2 separate regions of the Homo sapiens genome follow, and region 2 is linked to region 1. The links come from fine-mapping of genetic effects on gene expression. A gene starts in region 1. The other region holds a variant in brackets. All regions are shown on one strand. Distances are between the middles of the regions.

Region 1 (10,907 bases):
ATAAAAAAACTCCCAAGTTATTCAACTAAGTTCTCTACCACAGCAAAAAATAATGTTTTGTCTCTTAAGCTGATAGATGAGTACAAAGGTGTTTTTATATTATCTTCTACACATTTGCTGAAAGTTTTCATAGTTTCTTTTTCATTTAAATCAGACAAATATTAATGAAAGAAAGTCAAAATATTCAGTATGTGATGACAGTGAAAGAATACTAACAACAGTGAAAGAATACTATTTTAATAGACTTTCCTTATTGTGACACTGTACAAACCAGTTGTTAAAGGCCTAGGCTCTCGAGAGATACAAAGCCTGGGTTTAAATCTTAACACTGACACTTGCTGGGCATGCAACTTTAATATGGCGCAAATTACTTAACCTCTCTGAGCCTCAAGTTCATCTACAAAATACGAACAATACTGTTATCCTGATTGTATATGTACATTTAAAGGTCTTAAAACATTGCACAGGGGTAGTAAATGCCATATACATACTAATATATACACAGATATATATATATCTGTATATACATGGTAATATATATATAGATATATATATCTGTGTATATATATAGATATATATAGATATATATATCTGTATATATATAGATATATATATCTGTGTATATATATAGATATATATATCTGTATGTATATATATAGATATATGTATCTGTGTGTACATATATAGAGATATATATCTGTGTTATATATATATATAAAAAACACATATCACACATAATTTTTCATTATTTTTTAATGTATTAAAAATGCCTATATGTCATCCAATAAGACATTTGGAGATGGAGTCTCAATTTCAAAAGAGAGGTCTGGCCAGGTGGGTGGCTCACACTTGTAATCCCAGCACTCTGGGAGGCCGAGGCAGGCGGATCACGAGGTCAGGAGTTTGAGACCAGCCTGGCCAACATGGCGAAACCCCGTCTTTACTAAAAATATAAAAATTAGCCAGGCATGGTGGCGGGCACCTGTAATCCCAGCTAGTCAGGAGGCTGAGGCAGGAGAATCACTTGAACCTGGGAGGCAGAGGTTGCAGTGAGCCGAGATTGTGACATTGCACTCCAGCCTGGGCCACAAGAGCAAGACTCTGTCTCAAAAAAAAAAAGAGAGAGAGAAACAGAGAGGTCTGAGCTGAAAACGTAAATCTACGCATCACAGGGATCATACATACACATACACACACACACATACACACACACACATACACACACGCACAACACATACACACAACTCCTACTCTTAGAACAGTACTTGGGAGATAATAAATACTAAATAAATGTTAAAATGTTAACTATTACTATCTTTAATAAGCATTTCAGAAGTCAATAAAATTTAAGCTTATCAAAATTAAAGTTAACACTTAAATGCATATAGTAGGAACTCAATAAAGGTTTCAGGAACAAACATAATTCTTGCTAGTTACATTTTTTAAATTGCTGTTATAAAAAGTAAACAGAAATTGAAAAAATATAAGAACTTATGTTTTTCAGCTTCTACTCCAAATATTACTAAATTTAGTAGGTAAAAGTAACAAAATGATCACTAATAATTATGACCATAGTAAGATTATTATATTGGCCTTGAAAACACTTTCAAATATATTTATTCATAGTTAATTTAGAATCAACCTCAATATAAATACATACATTTCGTAAGCCTGTGAGCCATAGGAAAAAACCTTGGGTGGATTATAATCATCAATTATGTTTTTCAGGTTCCTCAGGCTTAAATGTCCCTGCCCAAAATAGTCAATAGTATGTCCCCAGGATTTGTATCTTATCCTCAAAAGGTGTGGCTAACTATCAGGGCAGGACCTTGGAGAAAGGGGATATTAGCCAAGTCATTCCCAGTCTAAACAAAATTGAAAAAGTATGCATGCCAGGTGGGTGTTCAAAATGAACTTTAAAAATCTGCTACCTTTAACATGGACTAAATATACATGTATAAAACAATCCAGTGATTTTCTGCCTAAAAGTGTTTTATTTCCACTGACATTATATCTAGACCTACTTACTATTTTTCCACTGCTATCTCTTACCTGCAGCAGAATCCACTAAAGCACACGATTCCATTCAGAAGAATAAGCGTTGGGAGGAGTAATTTTAAAAGCCTAAAAAAACCCCAACGAACACAGATAGAGGACATTTCCCCTCACAGGATGGGAGAGAGGTTGGTCTTCTGCCTTAAATTCAGGTGTACATATCTCAGTGTATCAGTTTGCAGGGACAAAAGCAGTTTGGCCTCCCAAACAAAAAAAAAAGAGTTTTTTTCCCCCTCCGCATGCTCCTAGTATAGGAAAAACAAGTGGCTACGCATCCACTGGCCAGCTGAATCAGCTCAAGCAATTATGGGAGTGACCTATAATTATACTCATAAATATCAGATTTTAATGTCACAAAAGAATATTGTATCTGCTAGACTCTTTCAGCTCCACAATTCCAAGTATATATGCCCCTTGTTGCCTCTCCCCCAGTATGATTTTCCCTAGGACAGGTAACCTTTTTCAACAAAAAGTGGTTCCGAATATTTTAGGTTTATGAAGACCAGAATTTTCAAAATGTCTGATAATTTAAGTAACAGGTTTATAGTATGTTATTCATCTGTGCTTTTCAAGAGTGCCATTTACAATTTCTTTACTTTCAAGGGGAAGAAAAATATGCATCACAAAGCTTAAGCAAGAATTAGTGGTTTTTCTAATGGCCACTGACACAGGCCATTTTCTGAAAGTTTTCCTGAAAGTACGGAGTACTGGCAATGTTCCATTTAAGAGATTTTTTTTTTGTTGCAGTTTTCATGATTCAATTTGACAAATAATGTTCTTCTATTTGTATATTATATATGAATATACATATATAAAATATAACATATATTCATTAAAAAGTATATGTTTTTTATTTCCTCTAATGTAAAAAAATTAGCATCTTGAAAGACACCATCTTTAGTGTATAGGTAACTGAGGGCTTTCGTTAATGGTCAATTATTTAAAAGTCTCACATAATTTATATAATCTACACTAAAATGTATTGTTAGAACTAGGCTATAGCATATGTTCTGGGTATTTTATATATAGAAAAGAAAAAATTCTGGATAAGTGAAACTATTAATCCTCAAGGATATAAAACAAAAAGGCTTTTTCAAATGTACTTAGAAAAAAAAATCACACAGGAAAGTTAAGATTTTGTAAACTACTTTAATAAAACATTTGAATAAATTTGTGTTAAACTCAGTAAGTTTCATATTCCTATGAGCTGTTTCCCTAACGTCCTAAAAATTACCTTTTTATACATAAAACAGAGCATTTAGTAAAATAAATAATACACCAGCACATCAAACTTACAGAAACTCTGGCATCCATTTACCATACAACTACAATAAATTGTAATTTCATCCAAATACCACATCATATATGAAATAATCATTGAACTTCACCACATTTTAAAAAATTTCAAAGATAACCTGGCAAAAATGGTTTATTTAAACACAGTATAATCTTATTTTAAGAAAACATAAATTCATAGTAATAAGAGCAAATCACACATAAATGTTTGAACTGAGCATTAGAATTCACAAATTAGTATCTTCAGCTCATTTGAATTAATCAAATACTAAATACTATATTGAGCAAGAGATAACAGTATCATTATAATAAGCTAAATCCAAACACGGAAAATAAGTCTAACATAAAAACAAGCAAGACTTTTTTTTTTTTTTTTTTTTTTTTTGTCTTTTCGCTGGCTCCCTGACTGCAACTAGTTTTTCTTTTGGAAAAAGAAGCTCCAACACAATTAAATAATAAATTTCTACATTTTCTGTAGTTTTTCTTCCCCGAAAATCATGTTTCCATTAGCTTGCTAGTAAATCCTACAGAGTTGTCAATTTATCCATCACCGTCTCTCTCTGAGCTTCAAATACAGAAAATCCGAAAAGTTCAAAGCAGTTAGAAAAGCAGCGAGTTGACAAAGAATGCCACTTGAGATTTTTTTTTTTAGTCCTACTTCCTAAAAAGTCAACAGGTCAAAATTACTCACAGCTGGATGCAAGGGTCTTCGAAAAATGAAAGGATGTTTTCCCTGCCTCAATCAGCAGACTTAAAATGCTCCCGATCCACAGTGGGATAGATGTGGCCCTCAACGGTCAGATAATCAATCGCTTCCTTGATGGCCTTGACGCTAAGGTCGCAGAGCTGAGCCCGGAGCTCATGGATGCTCTTCCCTTCCTGATGAGGACACTCATGAATCAAACGCAGCACTTCGTCCTGGATGAAATTGCGGTGACTCTCATCGTTATCCCCAGCATCATTCACTTCTGATGGAGACACAGGCACACTTTCTACAGTGGTATCACGACGGGCTTTATCCAGCATCATGTGTGCATTGACCGTTTCCAGAATATGCACGGTGAACTCGTTCATGTCCTCTAGGACATGAATTTTCAATACCTCAAGGCTCTTTGTTCCCGTGGGACATTTGAGGATACCAAACACTTTGACATATACTCCGACTGACAATGGAGTCACCTGCTTGACTTTCTCTCTACCAAACCACTGTCGGGCCTCGATTGGTTTCGCGGTCATATCATCAATTTTGTAACAAATGTGATTTGAAGCCTTCTCTGCCCCTCTGATTACCCCCACGATGGAGACCTGGGAAACTATAATTCCCCTAACCTTGAACACAGGGTCAAACACAGTAGAGCTGAGAAGCTGGTTCACATTACACGGTACAACGTCCTGAATTCGGACCTTAGGTCTTTGGGTCTTAATAGCAGGAGTTGCATCTCTCTCACACAGTTGGTCACTGCCTCCACTCGCTCCATCAGCAGCAGAAATGCTGCCATAGCTCCCAAACCCACTCTTACTCATCTTCAAGACAGCTCAGGCTGAGGAGAAGGTGGGCTTTGGCTCGTCTGGGGCTCCACGGACGGCTTTGAGTTCTCCACAGAAGGCTTCGAGCTCTCCACAGAAGGCTTCGAGCTGTCCGAAAGGCTACGATTGAATGCTGGGAGGCTGAGGACGTGACAAGCGTCACGCTACCTGTGGACCAATCAACTACCAGAATGCATCTGCTTCCAGCCAGTCAGGGTCGGCCACCTTCTCACCTGATCGCATAATCCTTCCCTGTGTGTCAGTGGTTGCTACATTCTAAAAGTCCCACACGAGGGGAGCCCTGTTGCTTAGCTGGTCAAAGCGCCTATCTATTAAAAGTCCCACGTGTAATTTCAAGCAAGCCTTTCCCAACATCTCTATAAAAATGCATTTTTACTAGCCCCCCTCTTTATTTCTTAATGCTGCAACTTCTACAATTACTTTTAAAAGACTCATTTATTCATTCATTCAAACAACAATGCAACAGAAATTTTAGGAGCACAAAGTGCTTGGCAAAACGGTAGAGTGCTGTACGTTACGTGCAGGGGGGAAAAATGCACCACCGTAGTTACTGTTCTCAAGAACTCACGTCCCCTGTTCATTCAAACCATTAAAACTAGGAGCATCAGGCCGGGCGCAGTGGCTCACGCCTGTAATCCCAGAACTTTGGGAGGCTGAGGCAGGTTGATTACTTGAGGTCAGGAGTTCGAGACTAGCCTGCCAACGTGGTGAAATCCCGTCTCTACTAAAAATACTAAAATTAGCCAGGCGTGGTGGTGCAGGCTTGTAATCCCAGCTACTCGGGAGGCTGAGGCAGGAGAATCGCTTGAACCCAGGAGGCAGAGGTTGCAGTGAACCGAGACAGCACCACTGCACTCCAGCCTCGGTGACAAGAACAAAACTCCGTCTCAAAAAAAAAAACAAAAAACAAAAAACAAAAAACCTAGGAGCATTTTGGAAGAAATGGCAAGACAATCGTCTTTCAACGATTATCATACTCTAAGATAAGTCACATCTTAACACTGGCTTTTAAAAAATTTTTTGTTGTTTTAAAATTGTAATTTTCTGGGCATTTTGCCAAGTGCACTATAAATAAGTAATTAATATATTTCAATTTATACATAAATCCAAACTGAATGACTGAGCTCTAAATTATTTTCAAGGCTCTGTGGACAGGACAGAAAAGTACAAGACTTAGACCTATTATATATTAGGAAAAACATGGATAAAATCACAGTAAGTTTTTTATATACTCTTATGGAGTAAATTCTGAACTTAAGATTCTAGTAGTTACATAAATAGATCCCGGATTTTTGTTTTTTTGTTTTTTTTTTTTTTTTTTTTTTTTGGAGACAGGGTCTCGCTCTGTCTCCCAGGTTGGAGTGCAGTGGCGGGATATGGGCTCACTGCAACCTCCACCTCCCGGGCTGAGGTGATCCTCCCACCTCAGCCTCGTGAATACCTGGGACCACAGGCGCACATCACCACACCTGGCTGACTTTTTTGTATTTTTGGTAGAGACGGGGTTTCACCATGTTGGCCAGGCTGGTCTCGAACTCCTGGACTCAAGCGATCCACTTGCCTCAGCCCCCTGAAGTGCAGGGATTATAGGTGTGAGCCCCCACGCCCGGCCAAGAATGTTTTGATATTTTATTGAAATTTTATTTTTCTTTATAAAACATTTTATTTTGGGTGTTATTGATTTAAAGGCTTAATAAAGGAACCACAGTTACTGGAATCCACCATTGGCAAGTAACCTAATAACAATCCTTTGTAGTTAGTTAATAGCCTAAATTAGTAGAGTTTTGAGAAGTTTATTAATGCTCTCACTTCTTTTACTGGTTAAAATAATTCACTTTTTGCTATCTCAAAATTACAGAAATATGTGAAGAGTATATCTAAAACTTATAGAAGAACATAAAGTTATATATACCTTTCAAGTTTTAAAAGAATAAAATCGGCCGGGCGCGGTGGCTCACACCTGTAATCCCAGCACTTTAGAAGACCAAGGCAGGTGGATCACGAGATCAAGAGTTCGAGACCAGCCTGGCCAATATGGTGAAACCCCTTCCCTACTAAAAATACAAACATCAGCCAGGCATGATGGTGCGTGCCTGTAGTCCCAGCTACTCAGGAGGCTGAGGTAGAAGAATTGCTTGAACCTGGGAGGCAGAGGTTGCAGTGAGCCAAGATCGTGCCACTGCACTCCAGCCTGGGCAACAGAGCAAGACTCTGTCTCACAAAAAAAAAAAAGAATAAAATCATGGAGCAAATATACTTAATTTGCTTTATAAATAAATATATAATAATTATCTGATCCCACAAATAGATTTCCATGTAAATGTGGATATTTAACTTCTGGCTCTATGTTAACATTTGTATTCTTAAAATTGTACATTACTAGAGATCCAACTAACTAAATATATTTTTAAAAGTTTACGACTTCACAATCAGATGCTGCTGTTTTATTAACATCAGATTTTTAGTCAGGAAATCTTGAGGTTTAAATAACAAAACTTATTATATTCCCAAACAATTATATGCACTACAAATTGTATGAATCATACCGAAATGATAAGAACGACTTACCTGACCGGATTGCTGGTTAAAGAAACCCTGAGGGATTCTAGGCAATTAAGAAGTTTCTCATCTGATATACCCGATCGTAATTCATGAACATATTCTTGTGAAGACAGGGTGCATTCATGTTTGCTGTTTTTCAGCCCACCCTATAAAATAAACAAAGAGACCATTTTAGACAATGTTTCAAAAAAAATTTAAGTAAAATAATGCATAGAATATTTATTTTGTTATATAAAAATGTGTGCAGAGTGCTACACACTTAAAAATTCTTGATCACAGAATTGATATAGTAAAATTGTGTTGTATATATCTCAACATTTTCCTCAACCTCATTTAAAAAAAAAATTACAGTGCTGGTGCTCATGACCTGAATAGAATATGAACTTGAATTACATAAAGTGTCATTGACAGGGGTGCTTAAATTTACAATTCAGGCATTAGAATTAATATTAGCTAGTCCTCCTTAACCCAGAGGATAAGCATTCAAAAATCATCTTATTAATTTTCCTAGTTAAGATATGTATATTCAATTCCACAAAATCCAGCAAATAAAATTTAATATATACCATTATACATAACCCAAATCTATTGAAAGATATCAGAGTATCAGCCTTTCTAAAAAAAATAAGTGAAAACAGTTATTAAAATGTAAAACAATATAGTCTCCAATTAGCATGTTAATTAATCAAATCAGTTGAAAGCATTCACCAGTTCCCAATTATTCCTTTCTGGTACTCTCAGGTTGTAGATTAATCTTAAAAAGTCATTAAATACATTTATCTGATAGTGACTAGTTTTTAACTTAACTTTCAATATAGATGGAGTTGTTTCTAGAACTCATCTCATCACAGCTCCTTAACTTCATCATCTTGCTATAACTATATAAGTAGTTCAGGGAAAAGGCTGGGAGGAAAATATTGTCAACACATTCACTATACTAACAACTGATAGTTTCACATTCTAGACGTACCTAATCATAATTGCCCCTTTCCTATACTGTAAATGTATATCCCTGAATTAAGACTCCAAGCTTGAGTCCCATTTTACAGGTTCATAAAAATTACACTCAGTTTCTGCTAAGCATCTAAGGATACTTACTATAAAATAACATCATAAGGATATACTATCATAGGAAATATAATATTATAAGGAGATCATAAGGAAAGGAATTTTTCCCCATTGGGTAGAGGTATTATCATTAGAGGATATGACATTTAAAAAAATGTTAATAATGAGAAATGAGTTCCCTATGATTTCACACTATTTGGGTTTTTATTGAGAATGCCTCCTCAATGTAGAAAGTGTTAATCATTCTTAATTTCTGAATTTCAAAAATCCCATTAGATGCTAAATTTTTAAAGTCTGATAAAGGCTTATAACATATAGGGGAACTCTATTCCCTTAGCGCTGTGGCAATATTATAATTATTATAGCACTTAAAATATTGTGGTAGAGGTCATTATTTGTGTCTGTCTCACTTCTACATTGGGAACTCCATCTATGCCACATAACTAACACCGGTCATGAATTTAGTGAGCTTCAATAAAAGTGTGTTATTATTGAACTTCTCCATAATAACTGCAGAACAAGGAATACGATTTCATACTTTGAGCTCCCATATTTTGTATAATGGCCACTGACTTGGTATTTCTTGCTTCGTTATGAGACACAGTAGACGTTAAAAATATACTGGATGGGCCGGGGACGGTGGCTCATGCCTGGAATCCCAGCACTTTGGGAGGCTGAGGCGGGTGGAACACTTGAGGTCAGGGGTTCGAAATCAGCCTGGCCAATGTGGTGAAACTCCATCTCTACTAAAAATACAAAAATTAGCTGGCATGGAGGCACATGCCTGTAATCCCAGCAACTCGTGAGGCTAAGACACGAGAATAGCTTGAACCCGGGAGGTGGAGGTTGCAGTGAGCTGAGATCCCGCCACAGCACTCCAGCCTGAGCCACAGAGCAAGACTCCGTCTCCTCCACAAATAAAAAAGTATACTGGATGAATCATCATCACCTAAATGGCACAGTAAGTAAAACCATCACCGAGAGATCATGTCCATATTCCTGTAACTTCCTTATCCATCTATTATTTCACAAGGAATAATAGCAAGTAAATATTTAAAGCATAATTTTGCAAATTCAAAATTATAGTTTTATTTTTGCTCGGCCAACTCACTTTCTACAACAACACAAAGTTCATCAGTAACAAGGGATCTATTTACTACATGTGCCAGTCTGAAAACTACTAGTAAAACGAATTAAAATTTTCAAGTCTGTAGTCACATACCGCTTTCATATAATCCTCAAAGTTATTTCTAAATTAATATATAAAAAGGCACCACTAATCTTCCCCTAGAGGATTGTATATGGAATTTAACCCTGTTGCGTGACCTTTGTATTTTGCAGTTTTCTCTGCCTTGAAGACCCTTATCCCAACCTCTCCATTGCTGGCTCCCATCATTTTAATCTCAGCTCCATAGTCTTCTCCCCACCCCACATTCTAGTTATCATCGCAACACCATTTTAAATATCATTTACAGTATTACCTCTATGAAAATTTATTTTTGTAATTTAGTTGTTTACTGTCTTCTGCGCTAAAACATAAGCTCTTATGACAGGATTCTTGCCTGCCTTGTTCACCACTATATCCTCAGATCTTAAGACAGTGCTTAAGTAAGCATTCAATACATATTTCCTGAATGAATGAATGGATGGATGGTTGGGTGGATGGATGGATAGAGAATAAACAAAAGGGTAGATGAGTGATGAGTTTCAACATGCTGAAGATTCTAAGCTTAGTTTTGCTTCAGAATATTATAGTTCTGAGACTTTCAGTTGTAATATATTCAGAGATGCTGAATATAGAACAGGTAAACTGAGACACTGTATGGTATGCTGAGGACAGCTCAGAGGTATTTTATATTGGGCATCTCATGGACACAGAATAATCTACTGAGAAAATGTTGGTTCCCTTTTTCTAATTGATTCCCTACAGGATTAGTCTAATTGGGACATATGGTTATGGCCGAGGTACTCCTTGTGGACAAGTGAGCCAGCCCATCACTTTGTGGCTCACTCCCCACCCAAGTCTTAGAAACAAGCTTAAATTATAAAATTTAGGATCCTCTCTGGTTATAAGGAATGGAAGCAAACAATCTACTAGAGCATGACAGAGAATATATAACTTTATAGAACAGATGCTTTTTACCAAGCTTAGAAGGACTTTGAGATTTTAACATAAGTTCATATTTGAAAATTATGAAAATATGATAGCAAGCTAAGGCTGGACTGGCCCTTAAAGATCAGTTCTTCTAATATCCTCATTACAAAAATGAGGAATCCAAGTAATTGCCTAAGTTCACATAATCAGTAAGAGTATGAGACTAAAACAAATATTCTGGTCCTTGGATAGCTCCTGTCTCTACTATATACTACTTTTGCTC
Region 2 (10,907 bases), 880 kb before region 1:
ACACATGTGTCGACAAATTGTTGAAAGAAAGACACAATTGCACAGGGTGTCTTTTCTTTCTATTTGTCTTTTTTTTTTTTCTTTTTCTTTTTCTGAGACAAAGTCTTGCTCTGTTACTCAGGCTGGAGTGCAATGGCATGATCTCGGCTCACAGCAATTTCTGCCTCCCCGGTTCAAGTGACTCTCCTGCCTCAGCCTCCTGAGTAGCTGGAATTACAGGTGTGTGCCACCACACTCAGTTAATTTTTGTATGTTTAGTGGAGACGGGTTTTCATTAGGTTGGCCAGGTTGGTCTCGAACCCCTGACCTCAGGTGATCCACCAGCCTTGGCCTCCCAAAGTGCTGGGATTATAGGCATGAGTCACCATGTCTGGCGCCATTTGTCTTTTGCTCTTCTGTTGTCATGTAAATGCAAAGCTCTATTCATCTGCTTATCTTTCTCTATCTGATTCCAGAGGAAAATTCACACACCAAAAACCCTTCTTTGACTCTAATAATGGAGATGGGCAGGCACATGAGCCAAGGCTGAGTTAAGCTGCAAAAATAAATCTAGATTGAGAAGTTCAGAGACATTTTTTTCATCCTCTATCAGTCATGTAAAAGGAGTGACCAGTTAGATAAAGCAACCCTGCCTTATCTCAAGAGGACCTAACTAATTCCCCCTAAATCTTTTTAGTTCCAAGTCTGTGGGATTCCTTCTCATGACACAACTTCCCGCACTAACTTATTTAACCAACTTGAAGAGGATTAAGGGCTCAGTTGACACTTACGGAATGAAAAACATGTTCTGGCAGCTTTGAGCAGTACCCCTATGAGTTAGAATGTCAGATAAAGGAATCTGGGAGCTGTATCCCATTTCAAATTCAAACAGAAATCAGAGAGGCCTTAAAGATTCTATTTTAATTTGCAAATTGATATATATCAGAAGACAAGAAAGACAAACAGTCCTCATCAAGAAAGCATTTTTGCAAGTTTAATCCACAAGTTCACAGTTTCTTTGACCCTTATGAAATCGCCTTTGCAAAATTATGACTGAGACAGTGAAAGTGTTCTAACTTAACTGACTCCATCTTGCTTCTAGCCTCCAAGCTGGCCTTGTTCATTCCTGGGCGTAGTCTGAACTAACTTTGGGAGAAACTTAGTTTAAACAAAGACGGTAACAGCCCTTTCCCAAAGCAGACCTCCTTCCTGCCTGGGACTAGGTTGCCTTTGTAGGACTAACAGTAACCACAAGATTAGAAATGATGGTTTAGAAGTCATGCAGCTGGAGGCTACAAGATTCTGACCCTCCCTAAACTGCTCCTAAGATCACTGCTTGAGAAATTGTGCAGACCCTGCACTTGATGGATCAGCTGGCACCACCCAGATCAATGAACTGGCTCATCTGATCTTATGGCCCCACCCAGGAACTGACTCAGAGGCAAGAAGACAGCTCCGACTCCCTATGATTTCATCTCTGACCAATCAGCACTCCTGACTCACTGGCTTCCCCCCACCCACCAAGTTATCCTTAAAAACTCTGCTCCCCCAATACTCGGGGAGACTGATTTGAGTAATAATAAAACTCCGATCTCCCACACAGCTGGCTCTGCGTGAATTACTCTTTCTTGACTGCAATTCCCTTGTCTTGATGAATTGGCTCTGTCTAGGCAGCGGGCAAGGTGAACCCCTTGGGTGGTTACACTTATGGTGCTCAAGATTACTTTGCTTCTCCCAGAACACTATGTAATAAAAGGAAACCAATCAATGAAGAGAGACCTACCCTGCATGTGAAAAGATAGCTATGGGGAAATATAAAACAGTTTTATTTCATGGTTGAGTCTATCTAATATTTTTCCAATATTTTAAATTCAGTATTTTTACCCTGCTTAAAACAATACAGGAGAAAAACCCCTGTATTTTAACTTTGGAAAGTTTACAGGAACACTGATTTTGGCTTTGCTCTAGAAGAGATTTAGGGGTTAATTTATTTATTTGACAAGAGCGACAGTACAGAGTCAGATAATCCAGCTGTTATAATTTTGAAGTAAGCATAAATGTGATTTAGAAGCATATTCATGTTGCTGTGTACCTGCTGGTGAAAGACAGTAGTGAAATCCTCAGCAGAGGCACCAATTGCAGTAATCTTAATGAACTGGAGCCTGAAAACCATCAAGAAATAGCCACAACATCTGCAGTAAAGAGAGCAAGCAAGAGAGAAAACAATGATACACAGGAAAAATGTTAATATTGTTTATTCTTTGCAAGACATGCATCAGATACCTCCTCCAGCTTCCCTCCTTAAACATACAAATAAGCATGGGCACCTCTTTCGTCTACAGTGAATGTTGAAGAGAAACTTCAATCTCATTGACTAATTCTGCTGCTCCTTTAAATTGAATTTTTATACATATGGGTACACAAACCAATCTATATGCAGAACAATTCTTTGAACAGCATGCAAATGGTTTGGCATTACATGCTAGGTATCACACAAGTGAGTTTTCACAGTACAAAAGAATGAATTCCTTATTGTGGCACTTGAGATAACAATACTAAAGAATTTCAGCTCAACTTTAAATTGCTCCCTCCAACTGTTGTAGTTTTCTTAGTAGAAGTATTCTTAGTAGAAGTATAACATCCTTCTTAGTTTCTGCTTTCTTTTACCAAGTAATAATTGCTCATCTCTACTAAAGAATGGTACATCCATCCTTTCATTCATTGAGTCAGTCAACAAATATTTATTGAATAACTATTATATCTCTAGCACTATCTTAAACATGGCAAATAGATAAATATGGCCTGGTCCTCTAAAAATTACATTCTTCATAGGTGTGACAACTATATATAGAAACTATTCATATCAAAAAAGAGAAAGTGAAACACATCTCTAACTTGGGATTGTTTTCTTTCAATCCAACAAATCTCCTTTTTGTCACTGTAATATATTGACCTTGGGTTTTGGTTTATTTAGGTGTGTCCCTGAGAAATTCTTACCAGTCACCTTTCTTGAAAAGATATTATTACTAACCCAGAGCCTACCATTGTATGTAAGGCACTGATTACCAGGGTGGAGCAGGCAGAAATATAGAAGTGGTCTGAAGGAATCCCTTAGCAATGACGCATGAGGATGGAAAAAGTTAAGCCTCAAGGTTTCTAATGACATTTTTATTGGTACACAATGAAAGTTTCAGCTGCTGATTCTGCCCCAGCTCAGTTGCCCAGGGTTTTGCTGATAAGTGGAACCAATGAGGGAAAGAGGAGACAGGAAAGGAGAGAGACTCTTTAAATATTACAGTATTTTATTGCCTGAGCAGGTTTGATGCACAACCAGCATGCACTGGTATCTGATTGCTCAATATTTTAATATCACCCTGGGTCTAGGTACCAAATATAAAGTGCCTAGAGAATTTGAGTTTTAAAAACTAAGTCACCTCTGAGATTTCATCAGGGAGGAGATGCCTCCTGAGAGGAGTCTTTAAAGGATAAATAGGAGCTAGGCTTGCAAAGAGGGCTGAGGGCATTCCAGACAGAGAGGACATGCTCATAAATAAGAAACATCATGATGAGTGTGGGGGAAGGTACTAGCATCTCAGTGTAGATGAAGCATAGATTTTGAAATAGAGAGAGGTAGGAACTGAGCCCAGAAACAAATGCACACAGGGCAAAAATTATTGCTGATTTTATATGGCATACTGTGGAATTGGGACTTTATCCTAAGAACTATGGGGAGCCATTTAAAGGATTAAGCAAGGCAATTTGGAGGGGTGGGGGAAGTTCCTGTGGTTAAATTTGCATTTAAAAAGGTTACTCAGCCTGCAATGTAGAGAATAAATGAGACTGGGCAAAGGCAGAGAGTAAAGATAATTTTGTATACCTGAGGGTTGGAGTTATGCTGGACTGGTACAGCAGAAGGGAAAATTACATGATCTTTGAGAAGCCAGTAAGGGACAAAAAGTCTACAAGAACTGGAGCTGTTCAAGGTAGTGGATATCTCACTACAGTGAAGACTAGCTATAGTAGAATTGAGGAGAGTGAGTTGGAAAACTTGAGGTCATAACCAGAGAATGGATTCTTGGAGTTTAAGATTTCATAGGTGGTGAGGTTTCAAGAAATGAAACTGCCTTTGCAAAAATTATAACAATGAGAGAACTGTTGACAGTAAAAGAGATCTTTTACTGTCTAACCAACTCCATCTTGCCTTTAACCTCCAAACTGCCCTTGGTCACTCCTTGTCATGAGACTAGCTAACTTTAGGAGAAATGTAGTTTATAGTTTAAATGATAGTAGCCCTTCCCAAAGAGCTAACCTGCCTTTGTAAAACTAATGAAAGGCCACCAGGTTAGGAGAATGAGAGGGCCCTGGATTCTGATAAGATGTAGGCATAGTTAAACAATTACCAGCCATTATTCCAGAGGTCAGAAGATTTGCAGCTTCCCCAGTTACTCCTGTAAATAACATCACTATTGTAGAACAAAAAATTGGCCTTTTGAGATGTCTTTTCAGACTTTTGCATTTCTGGTAACTGGATGGTTCCACCCAGACCATTTTCCACACCACTATGATTGCATCCCCAATTGATCAGCAACACGCATTCCCTAGCCACCTGCCCACTGAACTATTTTTTAAAAACCCTAGGCTCTGAATATTCGGGGAAACGATTTGAGTAATAATAAAACTTTAGTCTCCCATTTAGCTGGCTCTATATGTATTAAACTCTTTATTGCAATTCCTCTCTCTTGATAAATCGACTCTATCTGAGCAGCTGGAAGGAAGAACCTGTTGGGCAGCTACGGTAATGAAAATGTCTACTACGTAGCCAGAAAAGTTGAATGCAAAGTTACAGGTTGAGGCAGACAAAGAGCAAGGCTGCAAGTGATTCGCGGTTCTGACTGTATTAGAATGATAATCTGTGGTGGTTTTAGACATTCCAGAAGCTAAGGCCCCCCCACCTTGAGAGATTCTGATGTAGTAGGCAAAACTCAGAAATACACACTTTGAAAAACTTTTACACGTTTCCAGTGCACACTGATTTGGAAACCCCTGAGGTTGGAAGGATTATCCGAACAAACCCCGAAGTCTCCAGATGACAGCAGAATTTGGGAAGAATAGAAATCAAAGTCTTCACTGAAAGTAAGATAGTGAGGAGAAAGTCAATACGTAAGGGAGCTGAAGAGAAACTGATGGTGGCATAGCTAGAGGGCAAGAACTTCAAAGGAGCAGGGGTTTTTGCGGGAGTGGAGGGTGAAGGATTTAACTTAGCATCAGCCAGCAAAGGATGAAGGTGTAAACCTCACCTCCCAACACTAACTTTCTTTAAATTGGTTTACACAGCACAAAGTTGTTGGCACATCTCCAGTTCACCACCGGCATTTCCAAATTTTGACTCCACTTTATTCTGTGAAGAAATGGC[C/T]TCAGGGATGTTCTCATATTCTGAAACCCTACTTTCCACTTTTCAGAGCTCATTCCCTTCTTAGATATTTCATTCCCTTTTAGGTGACCACAGCCTTTGCGGGGAATAAAATGAATCTTGTGAACTTGAATCCAGAAATTTTAATATATAGATTATATTCTATAAATGTCAGTAGCTCACTTCACTTACCTGGTTTTCAAGACATTTGTGTGAATGAGAATCAAGTGCTATTTGATCATGTAAATTAGATCATTTTCAGAAAAATGGAATACGATGGAATACATTATACAGCATTTGGACAAAAGAAAATTCCAAGTGACTGTCTCTAGTGGTAGTAGTAATATGAATAATGGTGAAGCCAAACAAAGAAAAAGCATCAAGTTTGTTCCTCTAGTGCATTTCATTCCTTCTCTTTTAAATTGTTTCAATTACAAAAGTAATGCAAGTTCCATGTAAAAGTATTAAATAATTCAGAGGTATCTAGAGTAAAAGTAAATGTTGTCTTTCTACAGTACCACAACCAACTTCCCTCTCCTCGTGTGCATTTCTTTCCAGAATGTCCCTATGCACTTATAAAATGCATGCATGTATGCATATGTGTGTTATGCATTTTTATACAACTTCTCTTTTGTTAGCAATATATCACGACACAAATATCCTTCCATGACAATACACATAGATCAAGCTCACTCTTTTTAGCATATCTATAGCATTTAATAATGCACAATATTTTTAAACAGTTGTCCCCTCTTTTGGGATGCTTGTTTCAAAGGACTTACTGGGACAGAAAGTCCTTCACCAAAGAGACATCTAAGCAATCCTTCAGTGTTCACCACACGTCTGTGTGGTTTTGTTTTCTTATATTTAGAATCTTTCATCCTTCTGGAATTTATTTTTATGTATGATATGAGATAGATAGGGGTTCTGATTTTCCTATTCAAATAGATAGCCAATTCTTCCTATTAAAAATAAGTCTTGCATAAACCTTCTCATGCACCTTTTTGTGTGCATGTGTTAATATTTCTGCAGCATATATTCCTAAAAGAAAAATTGCTAGATCAAAGAGCATACACATTTAAAATGTTGAGAAATTACTGCCCAAATGCCTTTCAAAATAACATTTACATTTCCACAAATATCTTGAGTACCCATTTCCCCCATCCTCTTGCCAATTGTGTATACTATCAACCTTTTTCATTTTACAAGTTAGCTTATTCTCTATGTTGACAATTCTCTCTTTGATTGCAAGAAAGGCTGAGAACATCTTTCCTACATTATTGGCAACATTTATTTTTTTTTTATTTTTTTTATTTTTTTGAGAAGGAGTCTCGCTCTGCCACCAGGCTGGAGTGCAGCGGCACGATCTCCGCTCACTGCAACCTCTGCCTCCCGGGTTCAAGCAATTGCCTCAGCCTCCTGAGTAGCTGGGACTACAGGTGTACACCGCCACGCCCGGCTAATTATTTTGTGTTTTTTTTGTTGGTTTTTTTTTTGTTTTTTTTTTTTTTTTGTATTTTAGTAGAGATGGGGTTTCACCATGTTGCCCAGTCTGGTCTCAAACTCCTGAGCTCAGGCAATCTGTCCACCTTGGCCTGCCAAAGTGCTAGGATTACAGGCATGAGCCACTGCGCCTGGCCACAACATCTCTTTTAAAAAATTTCTTGCTCATATATATTATCCTTTTTTGGGCAGACGGTGGCTTCTTATTTATTTGTAGGAGGTCTTTATATATTGCAGATATGAACTTTGTCTATTATTTATGTTAAAAAATATTTCCTCAAAAAATGCCTTTTAATTTTGCTTAGGATGTCTTTCATAATGCTGAAAGAAGCTTTTACTTTTCATTTTGTCAGATCTTTCCATTTCTTTCTTTATGGATTTTGGCTTTTATATTCTGTTTAAGAACACTTTCCCACACTCAAGATTATTTTAAAGATAGATATTCTTTGCCATTCAGAACATAGACATGGGCAAAGATTTCACGACAAAAACATCAAAAGTAATTGCAACAAAAGCAAAAATTGACAAATGGGATATAATTAAACTAAAGAGCTTCTTCACAGCAAAAGAAACTATCATCAGAGTGAGCAGACAACCTACAGAGTGGGAGAAAATTTTTGCAGTCTACCCATCAGACAAAGGTCTAATATCCAGAATCTACAAGAAACTTAAACAAATTTCCAAGAAAAAAAACAAACAACCCCATCAAAAAGTGGAAAAAGGACATGAAAAGACACTTCTCAAAAGAAGACAAGTATGTGGTCAACAAACACAAGAAAAAAAGCTCAACATCACTGATCATTAGAAATGCACACCAAAACCACAATAAGACACCACCTCACGCCAGTCAGAATGGTAATTATTAAAAAGTCAAGAAACAACAGATGCTGGTGAGGCTGTGGAGAAATAGGAACACTTTTACACTGTTGGTGGGAATGTAAATTTGTTCAACCATTGTGGAAGACAGTGTGATGATTCCTCTAGATCTAGAGATCTAGAACCAGAAATACCATTTGGCCCAGCAATTCCATTACTGGGTGTATACCCAAAGGAATATATATCATTCTAATATAAAGATACATGCACACATATATTCACTGCAGCACTATTCACAATAGCAAAGACATGGAATCAATCCAAATGTCCATCAGTGATAGACAGAATAAAGAAAATGTGGTGCATATACACCATGGAATACTATGCAGCCATAAAAATGAATGAGATTATGTCCTTTGCAGGGACATGGATGGAGCTGGAAGCCATGATCCTCAGCAAATGAACACAGGAACAGAAAACCAAACACTGCATGTTCTCACTTCTTATAAGTGGGAGCTGAACAATGAGAACACATGGACACAGGGAGGGGAACAACATACACTGGGGCCTGTCAGGGGGTACGGGGGGAGGAAGAGCACCAGGATAAATAGTTAATGTACGTGGGTCTTAATACCTAGGTGATGGGTTGATAGGTGCAGCAAATCACCATGGTACATGTTTACCTATGCAACAAACCTACACATCCTGCACATGTATCCCAGAACTTAAAATTAAATTAAATTAAATTTTTTAAAAAGATAGGTATTCTTTTACATTTTATTCTAACATGTTGTCACAGCTTGAGTTCCTCCGTATGCAGAATCTGAGACAAACTTTAGCCCTCTGGATTTTTATTAGCGTTCTTGGCATCAACACCTGTAAATTGAAGGAAAAGGAAACAATTAGTCAGAGGCAGAAGTTGAGCTGCCATGCTAAGCCAATGACAACCTCAGCCTACCTCATGGGCAGCTCTTTAATTGAACTGAGATGGCCATGCCTATATATTCCTGCATGTGATCAGTCATTGGATGTGGACTGCTCCCATGGGAAGGGGTGTGACCTTGGGAGAGGCAGCTTTCTGCAGCTGAGGCAATCACTGAAGGGGCCGGAATCTTCTGAAGACCATCTACTAACAGCATTCTCAGCAGCTGGGGCAGTAAGTCCTTCATCAAAGAGACATCTTAACAGTTCTTCGGTGTTCGCCACATATCTGTATGGTTTTGTAAGAAATATTTAGAATCTTTCATCCTTCTGGAATTTATTTCTATGTATGATATGAGGTAGGTGGGGGTTCTAATATTCCTATTTAAACAGATACCCAATAAACAGATACCCAATTCTGTTTTTATTTATTTATTTTTTTTTAGACAGAGTCTTGCTCTGTCACCCAGGCTGGGGTGCAGTGGCGCAATCTCAACTCCCTGCAACCTCGGCCTTCCAGGTTTAAGCGATTCTCCTGCCTCAGCCTCCCAAGTAGCTGGGATTACAGGCACGCACCACCCCATCTGGCTAATTTTTTGTGTTTTTAGTAGAGATGGGATTTCGCCATGTTGGCCAGGCTGGTCTCCAACTCCTGGCCTCAGGTGATCAGCCCTCCTCACCCTCCCAAAGTGCTGGGATTATAGGCATGAGCCACCGCACCTGGCCAGATACCCAATTCTTTTAACATTCACTTGGTAGTACATTGTTTCTCATTTCTTTTTAATATTTTCTTTTTGTTCAAAAAACAACCCTGTCAAACTACTCATTAATTTGAAATCTACTGGTTTGGTGTTTGTGATATCTCAGATACAATGTGGATATTTTCTATTAAGTCAACAGGAAAATATTTTTGTAAAAAACGGGAGAATTTATTAAATCAAGAGCTAAAGAAAAAAGTTTCTGTCACTGAATTTTTTTTATCATTAGAGTCATAAATAATCAAAATAGGAAGGGAACATAGTACAGATTTTCCAGTCTGCTCATTTTCCCAGATGAGAAAACTAAGACCTAAAGAGTGGTAGGGATAGATTAAGAACCAGAACATAAGGTTCATGATTTCCAGACCAGTGTCATTTTCTCTTTGCTAGGTTGGTTGCTTTTAATGTATCACTTTATGATATAAATTCGTGAAGCCTTTTAATACTTTCATTAAAATATTTACTTCTTTACATTCATTTATAATTTCGAATATGTCCTCTAGTTGAAAATCAGAAAATAACATTTTTTAAGTAATAATTTTTAATAGAGACTCTTTACAAAGCTAAACTGGCCTCTCCTCTCATCCTCCAATTATTTGGAATTAGTAACAAAAACTTTTGTATTGGCCCCACTGTCATAGAAACCACAGAGTCATTAGCAAGTACAAGGCATACAGACGATACTATATTGGCTTGTAAGGATAATTGGAACTTTACTGATAAAAATCAATTTTTATTGGCCCACTTACATGCCATAATAAGGCCACTGTGGCACTTCCTGCTCAAGGCACATAAGTGAGAGTTAGTGCGTATTTGATTTTAATAAATACTGTCTGTGGGAAGCCCGGACAGGAACGAACAGATGTTGGAACCATATGATAATAGTGTGGCAGTGTAAAAAAAACCTGTGCATTTATATGGCACACCTGGTGTTTATGATACTTTTGCAACTTTTATAACTACGGCATCTGGCCTTTTGCTGCTGTTCTTTAATTTTCAAATACCCAGGATCTTATGTCTCTTGCAGTGTAGACATGTCCATCAGGAAGAAAAAAAAGGCAGTAAACATGTCATGAATCTTGCAGAGAGAAACCACTGCCTCTCTACAAGGAACTTGCATTAAAGTCATTAGTGAAATTTAAAAATATGAGGAAACATTTAGATCAGCTTTTCTCAGCACTTCTTAACAGGCAAAGAGGATTTACTCAAGGATTCCTGGATAATCTATCTGCGCTACAAATTTTCCCAATATTTTAAATTTGCAATAAATAATTTATGGGGAATATCTGAAATAAATATAGCACCATAGGATCTGTGTTATGGCACTTGCATTCTATTTGATCCAAATGATGTAGGTTGAGGCAAATGGAGATAATATAATTTGATAACTAAAGTTTAACTAAATTTTGTGATTTTCTCTGAGCTTTAGGATGTGTTCATGTGTTAAAAGATATCAAATGTAAAATAGTTCATCTAAATTTTCAATTGTTCTAATGAGTAAGTCAGATTAATAGAGTAAC

Direction of the effects. Positions count from the first base shown, and alleles are read on the strand shown. Sizes are in standard deviations (SD) of each study's normalised expression.
As copies of T replace C in region 2, the expression in breast of the gene that starts at base 5,278 in region 1 goes down (small effect, 0.12 SD a copy in GTEx).

The links. PIP is the estimated chance that this variant, and not a neighbour inherited with it, causes the effect. A credible set is the group of variants that fine-mapping cannot tell apart.
Region 2: its variant is the best candidate, but not a certain one, in a credible set for the expression of RPA4 in breast (GTEx, PIP 0.58).

What each region holds. Positions count from the first base shown.
Region 1 is chrX:96,878,279-96,889,185 of GRCh38, reverse strand. It overlaps RPA4 (replication protein A4), which reads right to left and starts at 5,278. Exons shown (of 1, transcript NM_013347.4): 1 at 3,719-5,278. The coding sequence starts at 4,875. The coding sequence ends at 4,090. It overlaps DIAPH2 (diaphanous related formin 2), which reads right to left. Exons shown (of 27, transcript NM_006729.5): 5 at 7,468-7,607.
Region 2 is chrX:97,756,397-97,767,303 of GRCh38, reverse strand. No RefSeq gene overlaps it. Among named protein-coding and RNA genes, the nearest start is that of ERVFC1, 80 kb to the left of the region's middle. The variant C/T (reference allele first, on the strand shown) is at 5,393.